Linked DNA regions of Homo sapiens. The protein of the gene in region 5 interacts with the protein of the main gene of each other region in a pairwise test. Each region holds a gene or a part of one and is shown on either strand. Other genes may lie near its edges. The genes, in order: FBXL17, DCC, MLH3, TLR2 and TMOD1.

What was found.
Region 1: the proteins of TMOD1 (region 5) and FBXL17 interact in a two-hybrid assay, tested with the Homo sapiens proteins (one large-scale study listed by BioGRID).
Region 2: the proteins of TMOD1 (region 5) and DCC interact in a two-hybrid assay, tested with the Homo sapiens proteins (one large-scale study listed by BioGRID and IntAct).
Region 3: the proteins of TMOD1 (region 5) and MLH3 interact in a two-hybrid assay, tested with the Homo sapiens proteins (one large-scale study listed by BioGRID and IntAct).
Region 4: the proteins of TMOD1 (region 5) and TLR2 interact in a two-hybrid assay, tested with the Homo sapiens proteins (one large-scale study listed by BioGRID and IntAct).

Annotation. Positions count from the first base shown.
Region 1 is NC_000005.10:107,878,253-107,882,701, forward strand, and holds part of FBXL17 (F-box/LRR-repeat protein 17), read right to left. Parts: intron 2,928-4,449; coding exon 2,785-2,927; coding exon of another isoform or gene 2,611-2,784; exon of another isoform or gene 1-2,610. UniProt on the Homo sapiens protein: Substrate-recognition component of the SCF(FBXL17) E3 ubiquitin ligase complex, a key component of a quality control pathway required to ensure functional dimerization of BTB domain-containing proteins (dimerization quality control, DQC).
Region 2 is NC_000018.10:52,752,375-52,756,823, reverse strand, and holds part of DCC (netrin receptor DCC), read right to left. Parts: intron 1-4,449. UniProt on the Homo sapiens protein: Receptor for netrin required for axon guidance. Mediates axon attraction of neuronal growth cones in the developing nervous system upon ligand binding. Its association with UNC5 proteins may trigger signaling for axon repulsion.
Region 3 is NC_000014.9:75,037,347-75,041,795, forward strand, and holds part of MLH3 (DNA mismatch repair protein Mlh3), read right to left. Parts: intron 4,355-4,449; coding exon 4,269-4,354; intron 2,679-4,268; coding exon of another isoform or gene 2,670-2,678; coding exon 2,565-2,669; intron 1,067-2,564; coding exon 994-1,066; intron 1-993. UniProt on the Homo sapiens protein: Probably involved in the repair of mismatches in DNA.
Region 4 is NC_000004.12:153,703,659-153,707,348, reverse strand, and holds the end of TLR2 (toll-like receptor 2 precursor), read right to left. Parts: coding exon 2,087-3,690; 3' UTR 1,089-2,086; downstream 1-1,088. UniProt on the Homo sapiens protein: Cooperates with LY96 to mediate the innate immune response to bacterial lipoproteins and other microbial cell wall components. Cooperates with TLR1 or TLR6 to mediate the innate immune response to bacterial lipoproteins or lipopeptides.
Region 5 is NC_000009.12:97,563,841-97,568,289, reverse strand, and holds part of TMOD1 (tropomodulin-1), read right to left. Parts: intron 4,253-4,449; coding exon 4,122-4,252; intron 2,443-4,121; coding exon 2,335-2,442; intron 1-2,334. UniProt on the Homo sapiens protein: Blocks the elongation and depolymerization of the actin filaments at the pointed end. The Tmod/TM complex contributes to the formation of the short actin protofilament, which in turn defines the geometry of the membrane skeleton.

The DNA.
Region 1 (4,449 bases), on a different chromosome or scaffold from region 5:
TAATTGTCTTTCAAAATGGGATAGTAGGCAATATAATTTTTTTTTCTCATTGGAAAATTCCAGTATCACAACACAGGTTAATATAATGATATGGATGATAAGACTAATCAGTAACAGAGCATTTTATATATAATAGACATTATTCTAAGTGCTTTATGTATGTTAACTCATTCACATGCTCACAATTCTACAAGATAGGTACTAGTATCATCCTCATTTTGCAAACGAGGGAACAGGCACTGAGAGGTTAGTAACTGCCCGCGGTGACACAACTAGTAAGTGCAAAGCCCAGATCTGAACCTGAACTCTGGCTCTCCGCAGACCATACCGTTGCTACTAATTTCTTTTCTTTGTTACTCATATCTTCCTTTGAATCTTGATGGTAACTTAAAATCTGGAGATGGATGGCATGATACAAAATCTGAAAACTGAATAGCTACTTTAGATTTCCATCCAACTAAACCAACAAGCAGGCTTTTCTGTGCAAGGCTTTACTTGTGCTTTGTGTGTGGTTTGGAACTGTCTTCCATCCTCACAGAGCCTCTCGTGTTTGGCTCTGAGCTGCTTTAAGTCTGAGGAAGCCAGACAGCAAGGCTGGGTCCAGCATCTCCCTGGGCTGCACTGCAGCAGGCTCTGACCAGACGGCGTCGTGCTGGAGCCAATGGGTTCTCAGAGTGGCTCTCTGGTTAGAGAAAGGATTCAGAGGCAGCCCAGGAAAAGGGCTAAAACCCTCAGGGATACAGCTAATCTGAATACTGTCTCTATTTAATTTTGGACTAATTTGCATTTGGGTAGAAAATAACCCATTTCTTAACTAAAAATCAGCAAAATGCTGGTCAGCAAATATGTCTGGAATAACATTCTCCTGTAGTAACTGTAACATACAACTTCTACAGTGTATCTCCGAAGATGGAGCTGATCTTAACCATCTAAAGATTACAGGTTAGAAATATGACAATTTCTGAGAATGGCTGCGGACACATATGTATGAATGTGTACATTTTGGTAGCTTTAGTTAGCATTCATGTGGCAGTTCCTTCTGCTGGAAGCTGAGGAGTTCTGCTGTCATTGATTCCTGTTTCTAGAGGACTATGCCTATGGTGGACCCTTTAACTTGTCTTAAAAGAAGTCATTTTAAAGTGGCAGGGTTAGCAGCGGCATTAGGTTGGTTAGTGGAAAGATTTGTGGGAGACTCGCAAGCCCCGGATCTCAGTGCTGTTGCTTAGTTACAAAGTAAGTCGCTTCTGGGCTGGGCTGAGAATATATAATAACATTTCTCTAAACATAACTAGCTGGCAAAGGTCTCGTATAAGTTGGGATTCTAAAGTGTTTGGAGAAAAGAATTAGCCAATTAACAAAAAATCACAAAGGACACAAGAGCTTTGGGCCATACTTCATTTGCCCCCACATTTGCTACATTTAGAAGATGCATGCCCTTTGAATGGCGTGTCTATTTAGTTTCACATTATTTTGCTAGATTTGTTCCTAATCACCATTTACAAAAGTAGCACACATGTGTAAATTAGTACAAGATGGCGGCACTTTCTGAGCAAGTATCTGAACTGGACCTTTTCCAAGGGAAGCAGTCCCCGTGGCCACAGACTGCCCCCTGGGTTGTGCCAGCAGCACTGGATACAGACTCCAAAGACCCGGCATGAAGTCTTGCCAGAGTATCCTGGGGCCACTGACTGGTCTTTCTGAGCCTCCATTTTCTCCCCTTCACAATGCAAATAACTATTTCTTAGACTTGTTATAGGTAAAACATGGAATAAACAAAGAAGAAAACACCTGTGGAGTGCCTGGTGTCCAGTATAGGTTTTTTTTGTTTGTTTGGGACACAGTCGTGCTCCGTCATCCAGGCTGAGGTGGTTGCGGCACAATCACGGCTCACTGCAACCTCGGCCTCTTGAGCTCAGGTGATCCTCCCACCTTAGCTTCCCGAGTAGCTGGGACTACAGGTGTGTGCCATTATGCCTGGCTAATTTTTTTTTGTTGGGGGAGAGGGGGATAGAGACAGGGTTTTCCCATGTTGTCCAGGCTGGTCTCAAATTCCTGGGCTCAAGTGATCCTTCTGCCTTGGCCTCCCAATGTGCTGGGATTACAGGTGTCAGTATAGATTTTTATTATCTGTTTTCTCAGTCTTCAAAGGGTCCCACGTTAAATGCTACACCATTTCCTAAACTCATGCTCACATCCCTGGCTGGTTCTACAGGCCTTCCACCAGGACCTCTGGAACCACTTCTTATCATGTGCTGGGAGTGGCATCTGATGTATGGGGAGATGCAAATTCCCACATACCCCCTTACTGGCCCTTTGTTGGTCCCGAATGGCCAGAATACATAGATGTTCAGTACCAAAATTACACACTTGTGAAAAACCAATTTGGCACTGTTCTTTCCACCTTTACTGTTGCTGGAAACTTGAAACCCAGAATACAATTTTACGGTTAGACCCTGCAAATTGCAGTTTGTCATGTAATCTTTTACATTTTGGTCCATGGACTTATGAATAGGATGCCAAACTCTAGTTGACTATGTATATGATTACTTTTTCTTTCTACTTAAGCACAAAATTCATTATTAAGTGGGGAAATACAAAGATAATCTCAGATTAGTTTACAAAAGCAGGCAAACAATGCATAGCTATAATTGCATATATACATATAAAATGTATATATAATATATAATACACGGGGGTGGAGATAGAGAAGGAGAGAGGATATGACATCAAGCTATTAACTATACTGATATGTAGAAAGCAAACAACTTGATAGTCAACTCTTACTTTATCACATCTCATCAGCCCCAAATATCTCAGAGACTTGCTGCTCTGTGCAATCAGGGTGGCTCCTTGGTCTGTGATTTCTTTACACCATCCGACATCCACAGTCTCTATTGTCATGCTGTATCGCCCAATGGCTATCAGTGCTGCAAGAAGGGACGCAGAGAAAGCATTAATGTTAGCAGTGTAAGGGAGCTCTATCTTATTATGACTATTCATCTCATTTCCTCACTAAATTTGTTCCTGAAATTTTGTGTGTAAATGAACGTTTTATAAACTAAACTAAATTTGAAATGCTTTAGGAAAGCTTCCCTATGACAAACCCATTTGCAAAGTGAATAATCATTCCATAATTTCCCTTTCATTGAACACAACCTTTTATCAGTTTTATTCATTACAAGGTTACCTGTACTTTCAAACATTCAGCTCTGCAGAAGGAATAAATTAAAATGTATTACAGATACAACATTTAAAAAAACCCAAGTACTAACTTAATTTTACCCAAGATAACTTTAATTTTTTTTTAAAGAAGAACCCACGTAAACACCATTTTGAGGAGTGTTATACTGCAAGTGAATGTCTTTACCAATTGGCATAATTTTTTCCATCTGTTCATGACCTGTAAAATGTAAAAGTATAAAATATTTTTCACATTAGCGCTTCTTGGGACTGTTAGGAATTAAGAGTACATCATACATACTGCTGATTTTAATTGGTGCCATGCTAGAGTGCAGTAAACAGAATGCATTTGTTATGGTGAATTTCCTCATCCTATCAGAAGTCTTCCTTCTATTAACATACAAAATGAAGCCTGTCGTCTGTAAACTATGAGAGTATCTGTAGTCTTCTCGGCTGTTTAGCATTGTACCACCACTAAAGTGCAGACACTTATCCCATAATCTATGATGTGCACTACTAATCACTGCAAAGTCCCATAACCCATCACCCCATCACAGCGACCAAGTGGTGAATGTGGCTCTTTTCTACCGACTTTGATAAATGTGCCCACCTTTATATTTAAGGAGCCCAGAAAACAAATTTCAATACCCCAGCACCAGTTTATGGTGCACTGGTTTGTGAATCAAAACCCTGAAAACAGTGCCACAAATATCAAAAAGAAAAGAGAAATGGTTTTCTGATAATTTCCTCATTCTAAGATAGCATAAGTTGATTTCTGTGACAATAAAGGTGAATGATAGTTCCCAAAATGTGTTGACTAGATGGATAATTTAGAGTTAAGTACTCATGTTAACAAATGTTTACTCCTACAGCTCACAGAAGAGAATATTTGGCAAAATCTTTCTTTGCTAATTACCTCAGTATTTTTTTTTTTTACTAGAAAACTCATGTCCGTACATTCCAGTAGGAAAGCACTCCCAAGTAGCCAGATATTTAATGTTTATAAAAACAACAATCATGATCCCAGTGTTTTCCAGTGAAAATACAATAGAGAGACAATTTTTTTAAAAAAAGTTCTCTATGTACCAGTTTGTTAATGTTTTCATCTTTGTGCATGCTGTTTTGATATTTAAAGTTTTCCAAGGGGTTTGGGGGATTTGCCAACTACTAAAAGTTTGCAGAAATGGTCTGAATACTATTTTTGTATAGAAGGAGCAACATCCCAGGTTAATTTTGGTGTCTCTGACCTAAGAAAATTGTTCTCTCTGG
Region 2 (4,449 bases), on a different chromosome or scaffold from region 5:
GAGCTTTACATCCTAGATGTTGTTTGAAAATTACCACAGCCTTGGGAGGTAGGTTATTATTATGTCTGCTGAACAGAAAATACTCCAGAGGCTCAGATAGCTGGCAACGTTTAGAGTAGGGAAGATGTGCTTGGCCAGATGCAAGTTCATTTTCACGGTAAGGGTTAGGGAAGGAATGAAGAAATGCTCATGCTTTTTCCTTTTTAAGTGGCACTTGAATATTCCCAAACAGTCAATTTTCTAATCACAAAGTTTTCAATAGTTAATTAATTTGTAGGCTATTGAGATATAAAGCAAATTATTCCAACTCAGTTTGTTAAGAGTATGTTTATGTATGCACATATATGGGTGAGTTTGATCTGCTGAAATCCAGTGAAGAAGGAGGAGGAGTAGAAGGGAGACAAAGAAGGAGAGGTAGAGAGGAGGATGGCAACAGCGGAAAGCTCTCTTTATATGGCATAAAGCCCCAGGTCTTCATTGGTAAGGCAAATGTCTACTATTAACATGACATACTTTGCTAGATACACAGTAGAGGGGATGGTAGGAAAGCTTCATAGATAAGTTCAGCGCTGCTTCCCTTCTTCAGCTGTTCTCAATCTAGAGGACTAAATAGAAGTATACATGGCACAGAAACACTGCAGCATTTTAGATTAGAGCTAATTGGATAAAAATAAAATTCCCAAATTTCAGCCAGTATGATGAAGTTGCTTTCAAATGGAGGCTTAATAGCCCAGGTATTCTTTACTGATAGAACTCAAAATGACTAGAAATACTGAGAGTCAGTAGCCTGTTACTTTGCAACTTTTAAGAAAATGTTGGATGGAATGATAGTTCTTCGTTTATCTTTCCTACTTTCCTTCCCTCTCCAGCCAAGTGTGCACTCAAGCCTTTAAGAGCACTTGAGAAGCTCCTAGAAAATAGGATGAATGGTGCATGGCAAGATCATTGTGTAAAATGTGCTGACTGATTAAAGACAGATTTCATTTGCTACACTTCTTTTTATCAAAAGACACTTTGAGAAAGCAAAAATGGAAGAGGGACATTATTTAATATGGGCTCTATACAGCACCTGAGAGTACAAAACATTTTTTTGTTGTTGTTGTTTTACCCAAGCAAAGCCTACTGTTACCATTTAGTGGTGACTGGTTTATTGAGTGCTAATGCTTTAAAACTGAGATTAAATCAGGTCCATGGTCTTTATTACTGGGAAGATATATGCCCCTTGTGAATTCTAGTGGTTTGGCAATCTTAACCTCAGCAGACATAACATTGATGTATTCTGTGTTGCCAAACAGCATGGTAAGTGTTTAAAATGCTGTGAACAGCCTTATTGCCTTGAAATGATACAATCTAATATGAGATTTTAACTCAGTGACTGAATCCGTGTGCCTATCCTTGTACAGAATACTAAAGTCCAAGCCACTGTATTTTAATATCTCACAGCGAAGGAACTCTTCTTCATTTCACTACTGAAAGACAGCACATGTAAATGTGAATGTAGATTGCATGAAGACTGAAACTGCAATGTAACAGGCCATTTTCATTAACAGTGCATAGGCAGCTGCCTTTCATAATAAGGCATCAAAATATCAGCCTGCTTCATTCAAATCAGCAGACCTCCTCTGGCCTTGTGGACAACTGATGGGTGGGATCTATGAGGCCAGAAATTCTCTAGTGACTGAAAGTCAAATTGTCCCCTTTCCACTTCATTTGGAGCATTCTGAGAAAGCTGCTTTTACCAAATCTGAAGGATTTATTCCACTTGTTTCTCCTAATCAATCATAATTAACATTAACATTCAGTTCTCTCTACACTTTATACTCATCAATCAAATTTCAGACACTCATCACTCCAAGGTTCCAGTTACTTTATAGCCTTGATTTTCACCATCAGGATGTCACCTGGCCTGTCTCCTGAGTAGAGGGGGTTTTCTGCATCTGCACCTCAGTCTGTCATTGCTAAAGCAGACCAGGGACACTTTGAGGTAGAGTGACCCACTGTCCTGGTTTTACCTGGCACTGAGGTGGCTTCCCAGGATATGGGACTTTCAAGTGCAAAAGCCAAGTCAGTCCAAAGAAAAGCAGAATGGCTAGCCAGTCTACCTCTAGGTAAAATCTGGCTTAACTGACTATGGAAAACTCTGCCTTCATCAGTTTGGGTGGCTATCACAAAGTATCTGGACTGGGTAGGCTGTAAACAACAGACATTGATTTCTCAAAGTTCTGGAGGCTGGAAATCTGAGATCAGGGTGCCAGCATGATTGGTTTCTGATGAGGGTCCTCTTCTGGGTTGCAGATTACAGACGTCTCATTGTATCCTCACATGGTGAAAGGAGCAGGGGTGTTCTGTGGTTACTTTTATAACGGCACTAATCACATTCATGAGGGCTCCACCCCATGATCTAATTATCTCTCAAAGGCTCCACCTCCCAGTGCTATCACATTGGGGGTTAGAATTTCAATATACACATTTTAGGGAGAAAAAACATTCAGTCTACAGAGTTCTTAGTGGAGAAAAGCTACAGAAGAGTGGTTTGAAGCTACATATGGGAATTAACCACATATCTATGAGATGTAATTCTTTATAGCACCACCTGACAAAATCACATCTTTCAGATTTCAACTTTCTCAGACCCTCACTAGGAGAGTGCATGAAGGAGTGGTGATTCTGCCCAATTGTCCTGTTATTGATGAAAATGAGTTATTCTGATCAGTCTTCCAAGATGAGACTAGACTAAGTAGGACCTGGGAAAGAAAACCCATAACAAATGACTAAACAGCCTATGATTCAATATTGTTTTTATTGAGAACTAAAGATTACGTTGAAAGCAGCCCTTCAAATCTGCTTACCCATTCATAACTTAAATTTATTTCAAGTTCAATCTGCTTGCCTTGCTTTATGGTCAATATAAAAGTTAAAAAAAAAGACAGGTTTTGGTCAAATCTTTATAGAAACAAGTAAAAAAACTGATTCTTCACTTTGCAGGTCTAACATTTCAGGGGCCAACAGAAATAATTATGAGCTGCCTTCTAACCAGAAGAGTGGGGCAGAAATAGCAATATCATGGGTTCCAGAATGGTCAGTACCATTTTTTCAGAGTCTACATGACTTCAGTGTATCCAGGTGAAAACAAAAACTGTTCATCTTATTACTCAGCTGTTGAGCCAACATGTTACCAAGCGTTAAGAAATTTGGAAGCACTAGAAGGAATTTTTATTTCTTACTTGACATGTATATGTTGTAGGCCATGCCACTATAATTAAAATAAAATTTACTCTTCTTAAGGCCCCACAACAAAAAAATGGACTCTGCAAAAGTTTAGCATTTAATGAAGCTGTAAAGTAAAATTAGCAAATTATATTTTCTAATATTTTTCTGTTAATGAGAAGTCCTCCCTTAGATATAAGTAGTAAGTCAACTTGAAACAGTTTTGTTTAAAAAAATAATCTCATAACTTTACGCAGCCAGTTGAGGTCCTATGACTGTTTTCTAAGATAATTTAAGGAGAAAGGTCAGTCAAATCCATGACAGAATAAACATGAATCTTTTTACATCTTTCCTTTTTCTTAAAAATGTGCGTTGTTGGTGAAAATGTAAATTAGATAGCCATTATGAAAAATGGTTATGTAGCTTTCTCAAAAAACTAAAATTAGAATTACCATATGATACAACAATCCTACTTATGGGTATATATCCAAAGGAATTGAAATGAGGGTATATAAGAGATATCTATACTCCATGTTAATTGCAGCATTATTCACAACAGCCAAGATGTGGAATCAATCACGAATGGGTAAAGAAAATATGAGATATATATATATATGTGTGTGTGTGTATATATGATATACATACACACACACAATGGAATACTATTCAGCCTTTAAAAAGAGTAAATCCTGTTATTTGTGATAACATAGATGAACCTACAGGATATTATGCTAAGGGAAACATGCCAGGCACTGAAAGAAAAATACTGCATGATCTCACTTACAGGTAGAATCTATTATAAAAAAGTCAGACTCATAGAACTAGAGAGCAGAATGGTTACCAGAGGCTTGGGAAGATGGGGCGTGGTAAGGAATGGAAAGATGTTTGTCAAAGGGCACAAGGTTTCAGTGAGAGAGAAGAAATAAGCTTTTAATATCTATTGCACAGCAACGTATATATCAAAATTGCTAAAAGAGTAGATTTTAAATGTTCTCACCACAGAAAAGAGAGAAGTATGTGGTGACAGATATGTTAATTAGCTTGATATAATCACTCCACGATGTATACATACATCAAAACATGACATTGTACTTCATAAAAATATATAATTACTTGTCAACTTAAAATTTAAAAGATTTTTAAAATGTACATTATTTCTACAAAAATTATTTTCTCATCCCCAAAAATGAATAAGAAGAAGAGAGGAAGGAGGAGGAGGAAGAGAAGGAAGAATCCACCTAC
Region 3 (4,449 bases), on a different chromosome or scaffold from region 5:
TCTCCATTACAGGGGCTAGAACTAAAATTTTATGTTTGTGTAATTATTTTTTTCTCTTGCATATATATCTTTTCTCATTATTGTATCCCTAGGGCCTGGTACAGTCCCTGGCATACAATGGGCACTCAATTAATACTTGTTGAATGAGTTAATATATTTACAAACTATTATTGTTTCATTAGAGCAGGTCACCAAGAGATTCTGTGTAAATATTGACAAACCTAGCAGAGTTCATTATATACACTTTCTATTATTATAAAGGGAAAACATGAAAATATTATTAAAAAGTCAAACAATAGAAAATATTTAAAAGAATAAAAGATGGGCTGGGCGTGGTGGCTTACACCTGTAATCCCAGCTGTTAGGGAGGCAGAGGTGGAAGGATAGCTTAAGCCCAGGAGTTCGAGACCTACCTGGGCAATATAGCGAGACCCCGTTCTCCACAAAAAGGAAAAAAAAAAGACAAAAAGAGTAAAAGTTGAAATATCTCCTTTGCACACCCTCATTTTCACTCCCAAAGTAAATACTCTTGATAGTTTAATGTGCATCCTGAGTATATGTATGTGTATGAACATAAAACTAAATGTCTGTCGCCCAGGCTGGAGTGTAATAGCGCAATCTCGGCTCACTACATCCTCTGCCTCCCAAGTTCAAGCGATTCTTGTGCCTTAGCCTCCTGAGTAGCTGGGACTACAGGTGCACACCACCATGCCCAGCTAATTTTTGTATTTTTAGTAGAGACGGGGTTTTGCCATGTTGCTCAGGCTGGTCCTGAACTCCTGGCCTCAAGCCATCCACCTGCCTCACCTCCCAAAGTGTTGGGATTACAGGTGTGAGCCACCGCACCCAGCCTTCATAATATTCTTAGTTTTAGATTGGCTTTCCCTAATCCATCCAAATCATTGAAACTATATTATATACCAAAAATAATCATTAAAAAAAGGTTACAAGAAGACCAGCTGGTTAATCATTCAGGCTAAACTCCATTCTTACCTGCCTCGCCATTCTCTTCAGTCTTAGTGCTCATCAAACAGGCAATAAACTTGTTATCTACTTGCTGGAGAACCTGTCAGACATTCAAATAAGTGGTACAACACTAAATAAAAATTAACAAAGGCTTATTTGCATAGAAAGATACAGAACTGTATTTTATTTAGAGTTGTTTGCCTTATCACACTCCTTTCTTTGAGACTGGGTAAGGTTCTGATGAACCAGAAAAAGTCACTAGGAAGGATGAAAGAATGGGCAGGTGGAGTTGATCAGAAGATGTAAGGGGAGGGAGGCGACAGGGGAAGACAGACTCCCACGTCTCAGAGTGGTGTGCTAGCAATACTTTAGAGAAGGCCTGAGATGTTCCCAACAGAGTGACTCTTGAGAATAGGTAATGTGACCAGAGATTGCTAACATACAGGCTGAAATAAATTTTTAAAATTTATATGAAAGCAAGGAAAACGATTATGGAGAAACTAGTCTATTTTTATTTTTATTTATTTTTAATTTTTTTTTTTTTGAGACGGAGTCTCACTTTGTCACCCAGGCTGGAGTGCAATGGTGTGATCTCGGCTCACTGCAAGCTCTGCCTCCTGGGTTCATGCCATTCTCCTGCCTCCATGCCATTCTCCTGCCTCAGCCTCCCGAGTAGCTGGGAGTACAGGTGCCCGCCACCACGCCCAGCTAATTTTTTGTATTTTTAGTAGAGACGGGGTTTCACCGTGTTAGCCAGGATGGTCTCGAACTCCTGACCTCATGATCCACCCACCTCGGCCTCCCAAAGTGCTGGGATTACAGGCGTGAGCCAGCGCGCCCGGCTGCTAGTCTATTAAAGAAGTAAGTTAAAAGCCACTGGTGGCTTTAGACCTTGGTGGTTCCTCTCTGTCTAGGTACTTGAGGCTCTCCAATACCCCCGAGCCTATACCACTGCCCCAGGGTCTATTTCTGGATCAACTGCTTGCCTGCTCTGGTACCAGGTCAATGCCAGGTTAGGAGTTTACCCAAATTTGTTAGCCTCCTAATTTGTTTCCGTACTGAAAACAAAGGGAATAAGACAGCCATGGTGGTAAACACAAGGCAAAATAGAAAAGCAGATCAGACAAAGGGTCCCTTTTGTGAAATGACTTCTCAATATGGGCTTTCCCAAACCTGTGTAGGCTCACACAATAGAAGGTAATTTCTAAAAGGGCACTGTTGCACACTTAAGGACAAGGTCACTAAAGGACTTTGATTTATAAATTATTGCCAAATATAAAGTCAATATATAATCTTCTGCAGGAGAACCTTGAGAATCCTTGAAACTGTCAGCCTGAATCCATAATTCATTCCCTCCAAACCTACTTACACTACTAAAGATATTTCTTTCTTTGTAATTATAATTAATCCCTTGCTTTTTCTTCTGATGATAAAAGTTCTAGTAAGAACACACACACACACACACACACACACACGTGCCTTGACCAAGGTGGTCTATATCATTAAATAAATCAAATTTTAGAAGAGTTAGGCCATATATATATATATATATATATATATATATATATATTTATGAGATTTTGAAGTTAATCTTTTACCTGCATTGAATGAATCATTCCTTTGGTGAAACGATAGGGATACAAGATGTTGTGAATTTTAACTGCTAAGCTCTCAGCCTGGCCACTGCTTACATCAACAGCAACCTAGAAAGACTCAGCAAAATATAATTGAAATTTTAATTTTTGTGTCAGAATTGTTTTACCAAAGATATCAGAGTGCTTTAAAAGCATTCATTTTTATTTAGCCTACTAGAGGTGGGTTTAATTCAGGGAATTTATAGAAATTCAAAAGAATCGGCCGGGCGTGGTGGCTCACACCTGTAATCTCAGCACTTTGGGAGGCTGAGGCGGGCAGATCACGAGGTCAGGAGATCGAGACCATCCTGGCTAACATGGTGAAACCCCATCTCTACTAAAAAATACAAAAAATTAGCTGGGCGTGGCGGCAGGCGCCTTTAGTCCCAGCTACTTGGGAGACTGAGGCAGGAGAATGGTGTGAACCCGGGAGGCGGAGCTTGCAGTGAGCTGAGATCACGCCACTGCACTTCAGCCTGGGCGACACAGCAAGACTCTGTCACAAAAAAAAAAAAAAAAAAAAAAAAAAAAAAAAAAATTCAAAAGAATTTATGAATAATGAGTCTTACATAAAAATTTTTGCTTATAAACAAAATTACTGACAAAACAAAAAAAATTGTTTCACAACAACAATTTGTCTATGTTCCATGATCAAGTCCTCAAATGATATCTTGAGGAAAGAACTGGTAAACAAATGCTCATCTATTATACACCCTGTTTATAACATGCACAGTACATTCTGTGAAAATACACTGAGGAGAGAACATCCATGCGGGGCCAATGAGGAACTGTTCCTCCAGTAGAAGATGTGTGGCTTTATCTAATGATAACAATTTCATTATCACCACCCTGAATACTGTGCCAAAGCTACAAGTCAGGGTTTCTGAGAGTGGTAAACACATTCACTGTTCTCACATTGATTATACATGTTTAATCCAAAATGCCTGAGTTCCCAAATGCTATAAATTTTATTTCTCCCCTCTACATTAAACAGTAATTTCCAAATACATAATTTGGAAATATGCCCAGTTTCCAATCATAATTACAAATTAATATAGTCTTGCATGCCCATACCCAGCTTAAATAAAATTCAAATTTTATTTTTAACTAATTTACTTATTTTTTAAGAGATGGAGTCTCACTGTGTTGCCCAGGCTATAGTGTGCAGTGGCTAGTCACAGGTGCAATCAGCACACTATATAGCCTTGAACTTCTGGCCTCAAGTGATCCTCCCACCTCAGCCTCCTGAGTAGCTGAGACTATAAGTGCATGCCACTGTACCCATCTTGAAACTCAAAGTTTAAAATAACAGGCAAAGAAAGGCTGGGCGTGATGGCTCACACCTGTAATCCCAGGACTTTGGGAGGCTGAGGCGGGCAGATCACCTGAGGTTGGGAGTTAGAGACCAGCCTGACCAATATGGAGAAACCCCATCTCTACTAAAAATACAAAATTCGCTGGGCGTGGTGGCAGGTGCCTGTAATCCCAGCTGCTCGAGAGACTGAGGCAGGAGAATTGCTTGAACCTGGGAAGCGAAGGTTACGTGAGCCGAGATCATGCCATTGCATTTCAGTCTGGGCAACAGGAGCAAAACTCCATCTCAAAATTTAAAAAATAAGAAGAAGAAGAAGAAAAAAAAAAGGCAAAGAAAAACTGCTACAGACCCACCTCTGGATAACGGGCAAATACTGGATTGTCCCATTCTGAGAACAAAGACTGAAGCGATTCGCTACTAACAGTATCATCCACAGTATCTAGGGCAAAAGGGAACAGGTAAAGTTGGCATCCAGAACCACAGGGAAAGGAGGGAATGGCATTTCCTGTTTGGTGAGCCATAGCCTCAAGACCA
Region 4 (3,690 bases), on a different chromosome or scaffold from region 5:
CTCCAACTCCTGGACTCAAGCAATCCTCCTGCCTTAGCCTCCCAAAGTGCTGGGATTACACCAAGCCTGATTTTTTTTAAGGCTGGCTACCGTTTCCTCCATAACACTCTTCTGGGAGGTCGTGTGAAACAGCAGCAGCCCTATGCGAGTTCCCCAAGGACAAGCTTGTTCTGCAGTTAATGAGCATATATTTCTTTGTGGTATTTTTCTGCAAACAGCAGGATCCCTTATATCCCTGCTAGTATCCATAACAGAAAAATATCCACTTACAAGCCATAATATATAAGGGAATGAAATATCTTCTTGGAAAATAATAATAATAGCTAACATCTACTACAGACATCACCCTCACCCCACACACGAACCCATAGTGCCCATTCTCTTAGGCGTGGTACTCTTGCCCTCAACACCCCTCCAGAGAAAATGGGAATCAAGGAGCTTAGGCTCATGGTTTACTTACATTCCTACATTTCATACTCTCAGTATCTTAGGATATAGAGATCATCATCCCTATTTTAAAGACAGAAAAACTTTTTGGGTCATGTCAACTGACTTGCCAAAGATTACACATCTACTAACCCAGGTCTTTCTGACTCTAGTGCCCAATTAACCACATACACCCAGTTCTGGTTGAGAATTGAGCAGGGGTCAAAGGCTCACTTCCTTTCACATGGTTCCCAGCTTAAGAAAGTTACATAGAATCAGCAAATAGTGCTTACCAAAGAAAGTTGCATCAAAATTTAATGTGTGGTATTATTATACCTAGATTGCAAAATTAACATATGGTAGTAGTATCTACCTTTAAATTACTGTGTATCAAACTATTTTTGAGTCATTATGAGGAAACTCTAGGTATATATTTGCTTAAAAATCTATTTAGCTCACATGTACTTTTTAAAATATTCAGAAGGGGAAAAAGGGCAGGCTTTTTTAGAATTAAAAACAAGACTTTTCGAAGAAGGAAAAAGCAACAAGATGCAGGAGATATAGGCTAAAAAACAGGAACTGAGAGTCAGAGTGATTGGACAATAACTAGAACTCAAAAGGTAGTTAGAGGCTGAGGAAGACCAGAGTCCGGATGTGGGAAGTGTCTTTCAAATTCTCCTAAACTGAGTATTTATTTTGTTAAATTACAGAAATACATAATTTACTGTACCTTGCACTGTGTACTCACTCTCTCAAGTAACTATGGCTGGAGAAACCTATCTAATAGCCAGAAAGACAGATCCAGATCACATGAAAATACACCCTCTAGTATTTCTCATCCTGTAAAGTTTAATAGGAAATACACAGCACTTTTTTCTAGGAATAGCAACAAGTTTTGGGGAGTGCCCCAAATACTTTGCCTTGTTGCTCTTGAGATCAGCTGCACAGAGAAGTGACAGCTAGGTAGGACAGAGAATGCCTTTTGTGGCCACAGAGGAGTCTCTTAGCAGGAAGAAAGAATGACACAGTCATTGAGAATCTTAAGTTCATTTGTGCTGTTTCCTAATGAACTAAGCCAGTTGCTACAGATTACAGTTGGCCCTCTATATCCATGGGTTCTGCATCCATGAAGTCAACCAACTGTGGATCAAAAGTATGTTTTAAAAATTTTGAAAATAAAAAATAACAATAATAATATAAATAAAAAGACAGTACAACTATTTACATAGTATTTACATTGTATTGGGTATCATAAGTAATCTAGAGATGATTTAAAGTATACAGGAGAATGTACACAGGTTATATGCAAATACTATGCCACTCTTATAAGGGACTTGATCATCTATGAATTTTGATATCCACGAGGATCCTGCAACCAATTCCCTTGGATACCAAGGGACTATATTCAGATATCAGTAATAGACTTATGATCATGGTTATCTCATAGAAAAAAGAAAAACCAAAAACCAATTTTTAAATCTGGCATATGTTTATAAAACAGCACCCCAGACAAAATTTGAAGTTTTGTAGTTTTAGTAAGCAAGTCCTCAAATGACGGTACATCCACGTAGTTTTTATATAATTATGTCTGAATGAACTTAACTATAACTAGTGACATAAAGATCCCAACTAGACAAAGACTGGTCTTAAATATGGGAACCTAGGACTTTATCGCAGCTCTCAGATTTACCCAAAATCCTTCCCGCTGAGCCTCGTCCATGGGCCACTCCAGGTAGGTCTTGGTGTTCATTATCTTCCGCAGCTTGCAGAAGCGCTGGGGAATGGCTTTTTTCTCAATGGGCTCCAGAAGAATGAGAATGGCAGCATCATTGTTCTCATCAAAAAGACGGAAATGGGAGAAGTCCAGTTCATACTTGCACCACTCACTCTTCACAAAGTTTTCAGAAAGCACAAAGACAGTTTTGTGGCTCTTTTCAATGGAGTCAATGATATTGTCAATGATCCACTTGCCAGGAATGAAGTCCCGCTTATGAAGACACAACTTGAAGGGGGGATTGAAGTTCTCCAGCTCCTGGACCATAAGGTTCTCCACCCAGTAGGCATCCCGCTCACTGTAAGAAACAAATGCATCATAGCAGATGTTCCTGCTGGGAGCTTTCCTGGGCTTCCTTTTGGCCTGGAGCCAGGCCCACATCATTTTCATATACCACAGGCCATGGAAACGGTGGCACAGGACCCCCGTGAGCAGGATCAGCAGGAACAGAGCACAGCACATGCCAGACACCAGTGCTGTCCTGTGACATTCCGACACCGAGAGGCGGACATCCTGAACCTGCTGGCCACGCACATGGGATGGAGAGTCACACAGGTAATTTGCTGGCCAATCAATCAAGACTTTGGCCAGTGCTTGCTGCTCCTGAGTGAAGGAGAGGAATTCACAGGAGCAAATGAAGTTATTGCCACCAGCTTCCAAAGTCTTCAGTGTGTGAAATGAGTCAAGTTGCTCCTTAGAAAACGTAGTTATTGCATTCCTACTGATTTTCAATACTAGTAACATGGGTAAGAGGGAGGCATCTGGTAGAGTCATCAACTTATTTCTGGAAATATAAAGTTCTTTGAGTTGCGGCAAATTCAAAGAAAATAAATTGAGATTGTTGTTGCTAACATCTAAAATTTCCAGTGTCTTGGGAATGCAGCCTGTTACACTGTGTATTCGTGTGCTGGATAAGTTCAAATATTTCATCTTTTCTGGCCACTGACAAGTTTCAGGCATAGAATGAAAACTATTCTTACTGATATCAATGTTAGTCAAGTTTTTCAGAGTGAGCAAAGTCTCTCCGGTTTTTTCCAATGATGCCAAATGATTTTGCCTTAAAATTAAAGTTTGTAGAGAGGGCCAGGCATCCTCACAGGCTGAATTTTTCAAGTATTCTTCAACCATCAAATTTTCACTGAGATCCAAGTATTCTAATGATTTTAAATGTTGTGAAAGTAAACAAGGAACCAGAAAAACTTTACTGTTTTCTACTGTGATTCTTTTAACTCTTTCTGTAAGTGAATATAAAGTGCTCAGATCATAAAATAAGTAAAACCTTGGAATATGCAGCCTCCGGATTGTTAACGTTTCCACTTTACCTGGATCTATAACTCTGTCATTATCAGATGCTCTAAAATTACCAACTCCATTAAGGGTACAGTCATCAAACTCTAATTCTAACAATCCAGAAATCTGATTCAAAAGTTTCATAACCTGAAACAAACTTTCATCGGTGATTTTCACATTTCTAAATGTAAACTTTTTAA
Region 5 (4,449 bases):
CTATCCCATGTTGGCCACAGTACCCAGCATATAATAGGCCCTCAGGCATTGTTCACTGAGTGACCAGTGGAGCCTCAACCTCCTGTACATACTCCCCACTTGTCTCTTTATTGCCCTGTGGAAATTCCATGGAGACATGGTTTTCTTCATCTGAGCACTACAGAGCAGAAGAGGGAAGCCTGGGAAACCACCCACTGGGCAAGTGACCAGGGCAAACTGGAGAAGAGGAGCTTAGGTGGCCCCTAGCACGTTTCAGAGGAACTCAGCCAGGGGGTGTAGATGACAATCAGAGCCTCTGAAGGAAATGAGATAATTAGCAGTTGGTGGAAACGATGCGTCATGGAGGGAAAAAGACACCAGCAGCTGATAGGACATACTGATCGGTGGGCCCTGCTGCCTAAAATGATGCTCCGAGCCAGGAATACCTACCCCGTCGCCCCTGCCTTGCTGAGACCTGCTGAGAGGCTAGCTCCCAGGAAGCCCTCTGTTTTGAAATCATCGCCCCCTCCTCAGTGCCCTTCACTTCAGTGTGCCCCCGGGATGGCATGTCAGCTTTCTCTATGATGGCGTCTGTCTCTGACTTGGCTGGCCCTCCTGAGGGAAAGGACCCAGCCAGAGTCCTCTCTGTGTCTTCCACCAGAACCTTCCTGCTCCCAGGAAAGGCCTGGCCTGGCTTAATCAAATCTAATAAAAAAAATCAAAATAACAACCAGTAGGCAACCTGCTAGGCTGATCCAACTGGACATGCTGGTGGCTGAGCAGGTCCTGGAGGCCCTGTCTTGCCAGGTGTTAACTCCTTGTATGCTGGGTCCCAGTGGAGGAACCGGGGCCAGGAGAAAAGCTAGGGCAGGCGGTGGGGGCCCTGACAGAGCTCTGGCAGCCTGATTTACCAACTGGCCCAGAAGCATCTCAGTGTTTGACACGGGCATACTGGTGTGCATAGGCTGATATCAGCTGTTGGTCTGGCAGAGTCCATGCCCAAAAAACATTTGTGGACCTGAGCTGAGGGCCAGAATGGATGTGCTTGGTTTCTGACCCATGACATAGTAGCATACAGGGCATGTGGCTTTGCCAGCTGTGTTCCTATGGGCAAGGAACCATGGAGATCTGAGGTCAGAGGTCATCAATCCAGAGGTTCCCCACTGACAGCAATGAGAGACTGTGAGCTATTTCTATTATTTCAAAAATATGAAAGAACACTGTCTTACCTATTTTAAGAATCAGAAAAAAATCGATTGCTACTAAATGGTTAATTACTAGCCCTGATAAACTAGCTTCTGCCCTTCTTGCAGGAATCTAGCTTTGCAGTAATTGCACTGTACTGTTACCCTTTAGTTGTCTGCTTGGCCAAATGGACCAGAATCTTTATGAAAGTGGAAGCTGAGACTGGTCACAATTGTATTCCCAGAACCTAATTCAGCGTTGGGCACAGAGAGACTCTCAATACATATGTGCTGGATGTTTAAAAAGAAGAGTTGATGGCTACTTCAGAGTAAGTACAATTTAATTTGATCAGAAATATCTTTTGAGACTTATAAAATAAAATTGGTCATTGGGACCTGCTGATGAAACCATCATTTTTATTTTTTTAAATTTTTATTTATTTATTTATTTATTTTGTGATGGAGCCTCGCTCTGTCGCCCAAGCTGGAGTATAGTGGTGCAATCTCGGCTCACTACAACCTCCGCCTCCTGGGCTCAAGTGCTTCTCCTGCTTCAGCCTCCCGAGTAGCTGGGATTACAGGCATGCACCACCAAGCCCAGGTAATTTTTATACTTTTAGTAGAGACGGGGTTTCACCATGTTGGCCAGGCTGGTCTCGAACTTCTGACCTCAAGTGATCCACCCGTCTTGACCTCCCAAAGTGCTGGAATTGCAGGTGTGAGCCACTGCGCCCAACCAAAACCATTGATTTTAGAGATGGAAAAACTGAGGAACAGGGAAGGGCAGGCTCTTGTTCTAATATGATGTGCCGAGTGAAGATTTAGGGGTCACGTGACTGCACTGGACTTGCAGGTCCACCTCTCACTTGCTGTGTGACTGGACAAAACAAGTTGCCTGACCTCTCCGAACCCTAGATTTTTTAAGTGCAAAGTGGGGAGAACTGCACATCTGAGACCAGAAGTGGGTGTGAGGATTGGCCAGGATGACGTGTAGGTGGTGCCAGGTGATGGCTGTTCCCTCTACACCCCTCATGGCTCCTGGTCCAATGCCTTCCACTGTACCACATAGAGCTCTTTGTTAGTGGGATACAACCAGTCCTGAGGCCACATATTTCAACCCTTCTGTTTCAAGGCCCCCAGCCACAATGCAACAGAACAGAAAGGTACATACATACGCCACGGGGTCATTACTCCGTGTCCCCACGATGCTGAACTTCTTCACATATGAGTTTTCTTTCAGGGCTTCTGCATATGCCTTGAGGGTGGGGATGGGGATATTCTGCACAAAGAAAGGCAACAGAGAGAGTGACCAGAAGCCTCCTCTGGGACAGGCTGAGGCAGGTGGATTAGCCTGGCTACTCTCTGATTCCTGGCAAGTCTCTGGCCAAAAAGCTGAATGGGCAAAAGGTTTAGGCTTTGTCCCGGACGACTGAAATCTGGGGAGAACTTTCTGGTAAACAGATTTAGAAAATCCTCCCTGAAAATTTCAGATAAGACCTGTAACCTCTTTCTTTGTGCACTTGGGGGCCAGAGAAGAGGCAAAAATTAAGGCGTGTAGTATTGTGCAAAGAGCTAGGACTAGGGGTGTGAGAGGGGCTGGAACCTGGCCTTGGTCCCAATGATCGGCAATGTTCCTGACTTGCTAGGTGTCTCTGTGGAAGCCTCCTGCCCTCTCTGGCCCTGTTTCTGGAAAACAGGTAAGGGGGTTGCATATGATACTCTTTAAGAGACATCTACCCCAGGGGGTCTCTGCTCCAGCGGCACATCAGAGACTCCTGGGGAACTTTTACAAAATGGTGATGCTTGGGCCGGCCCAGAACAATAGAATCAGAATCTCTAGGGTCAGGCCTGGGCGTTGGTATATATTTTTTAATCTTCTCAGGTGAAAACCACTGATCTGGTCCAACAGGCTCACAGTGCAGAGGAGAAACTGAGGCCCAGAGGAGGCTGGGGCCTCACAGGGAGATTCCATCCCTCATGTGGCCCTGAGGCAGCATTCACTGCCAGTGGGCAGCATTCTGAATTGTGCCAATGTCTCCTACTGGGCACATGAAAGAAAACATGGCTGTGTTTTTACCAATCTCTCAGAGCGTCACTTTAGCTCCCATGGGAGCAGAGCATGGGGAGGCCAGGTGGGGGTGAACACTAGGGTGCAGGTTTCCAATCTGATGGTGCCGTGGGGCTGGCAGCTGCTTAAAATAAAGTGGAGAAGGAAAGAAAGTGGAGCAGGGGCATGGGGGGCTGGCTTCTAGTCTTACCCCCACCCCCCTCCCAGAACTAATCCACTGGTCTCTGGGCTCAGCAGGTGGGTAGAAAGCTGCATTTGTCTCTGAATTCTTCCTGCGGCGGCCTGTTCAGGGTGAGACTGCCTGTCCACCTGTCCCTCCCCTGCCCCGGGATCACATAAGGAAATGTGCACAGAGAAAAGGGCAGACAGCTTGGGATATCGCTTTGGACATTTTGGCCAACAGCTCCCTTCTGTGGCTGTAAAACAAGGCTGAATATGAACGTGATATAGCAGCAGCGATGGCACAGGGGAGGGGCCTGCCCAGGGCCTGTGTTACCCCCGAGCCTAGTGGGCACCGGACTTTTCCAGCCTTGAGATCCCATGCAGCAGCGTGTGTCTGACTCATGATTTTATCTCGGAGAATCTCTCAGTGTTTTGAATAACGTGGCAGGTTTCCAGATCAAAGCTGGGTTGGCCCGTGCTAAACATCTGGGCCTGATATCATCCTCAGAAAGAAACCAGGACTGCCAGATGCACTTGTTTACACTGCCCACCCCTCTTAAAGGCTCCCATTTGCAAAGGTTTTGTCCCTATTCCCAATGCAGAAACACCCAGAATCCAAACAGGACCCTGTTTACTCTGCACAACCAACCCTGGACCGTTTGCATTTGGGTGACATGGTTCCCCCTCCCCCAGCCACACACAGGTAAAGTGAAATAAATGGACCTTACCCGGATATTATTGAGGTTAACTTCTTCAAGTTTTGGGTCGTTGTTCTTTATCCGTTCCAGCGTTTCCTCTACGTCTGTTGAATTTGGTTCTTCGTCGGGCACAGGCTTGTATTGTGTGGGTTTAATCACGCCTAGAGTGACCGATGAAAGGGAGGTGGCTCACAGAAACAAGGGGCTCACTTTCTGCCAACACAAAGATACTGTGGAAGGGAGCATGTGCAGGGTTGGGGCACGTGAGGGCTGCACATCACAGGGGCTGGGTGGGGGTAGGGGGCACCACTCAGAAGAAGCCCCGCAAGGGAGCCAGGAGGCTGGGGTTCTACTTGGA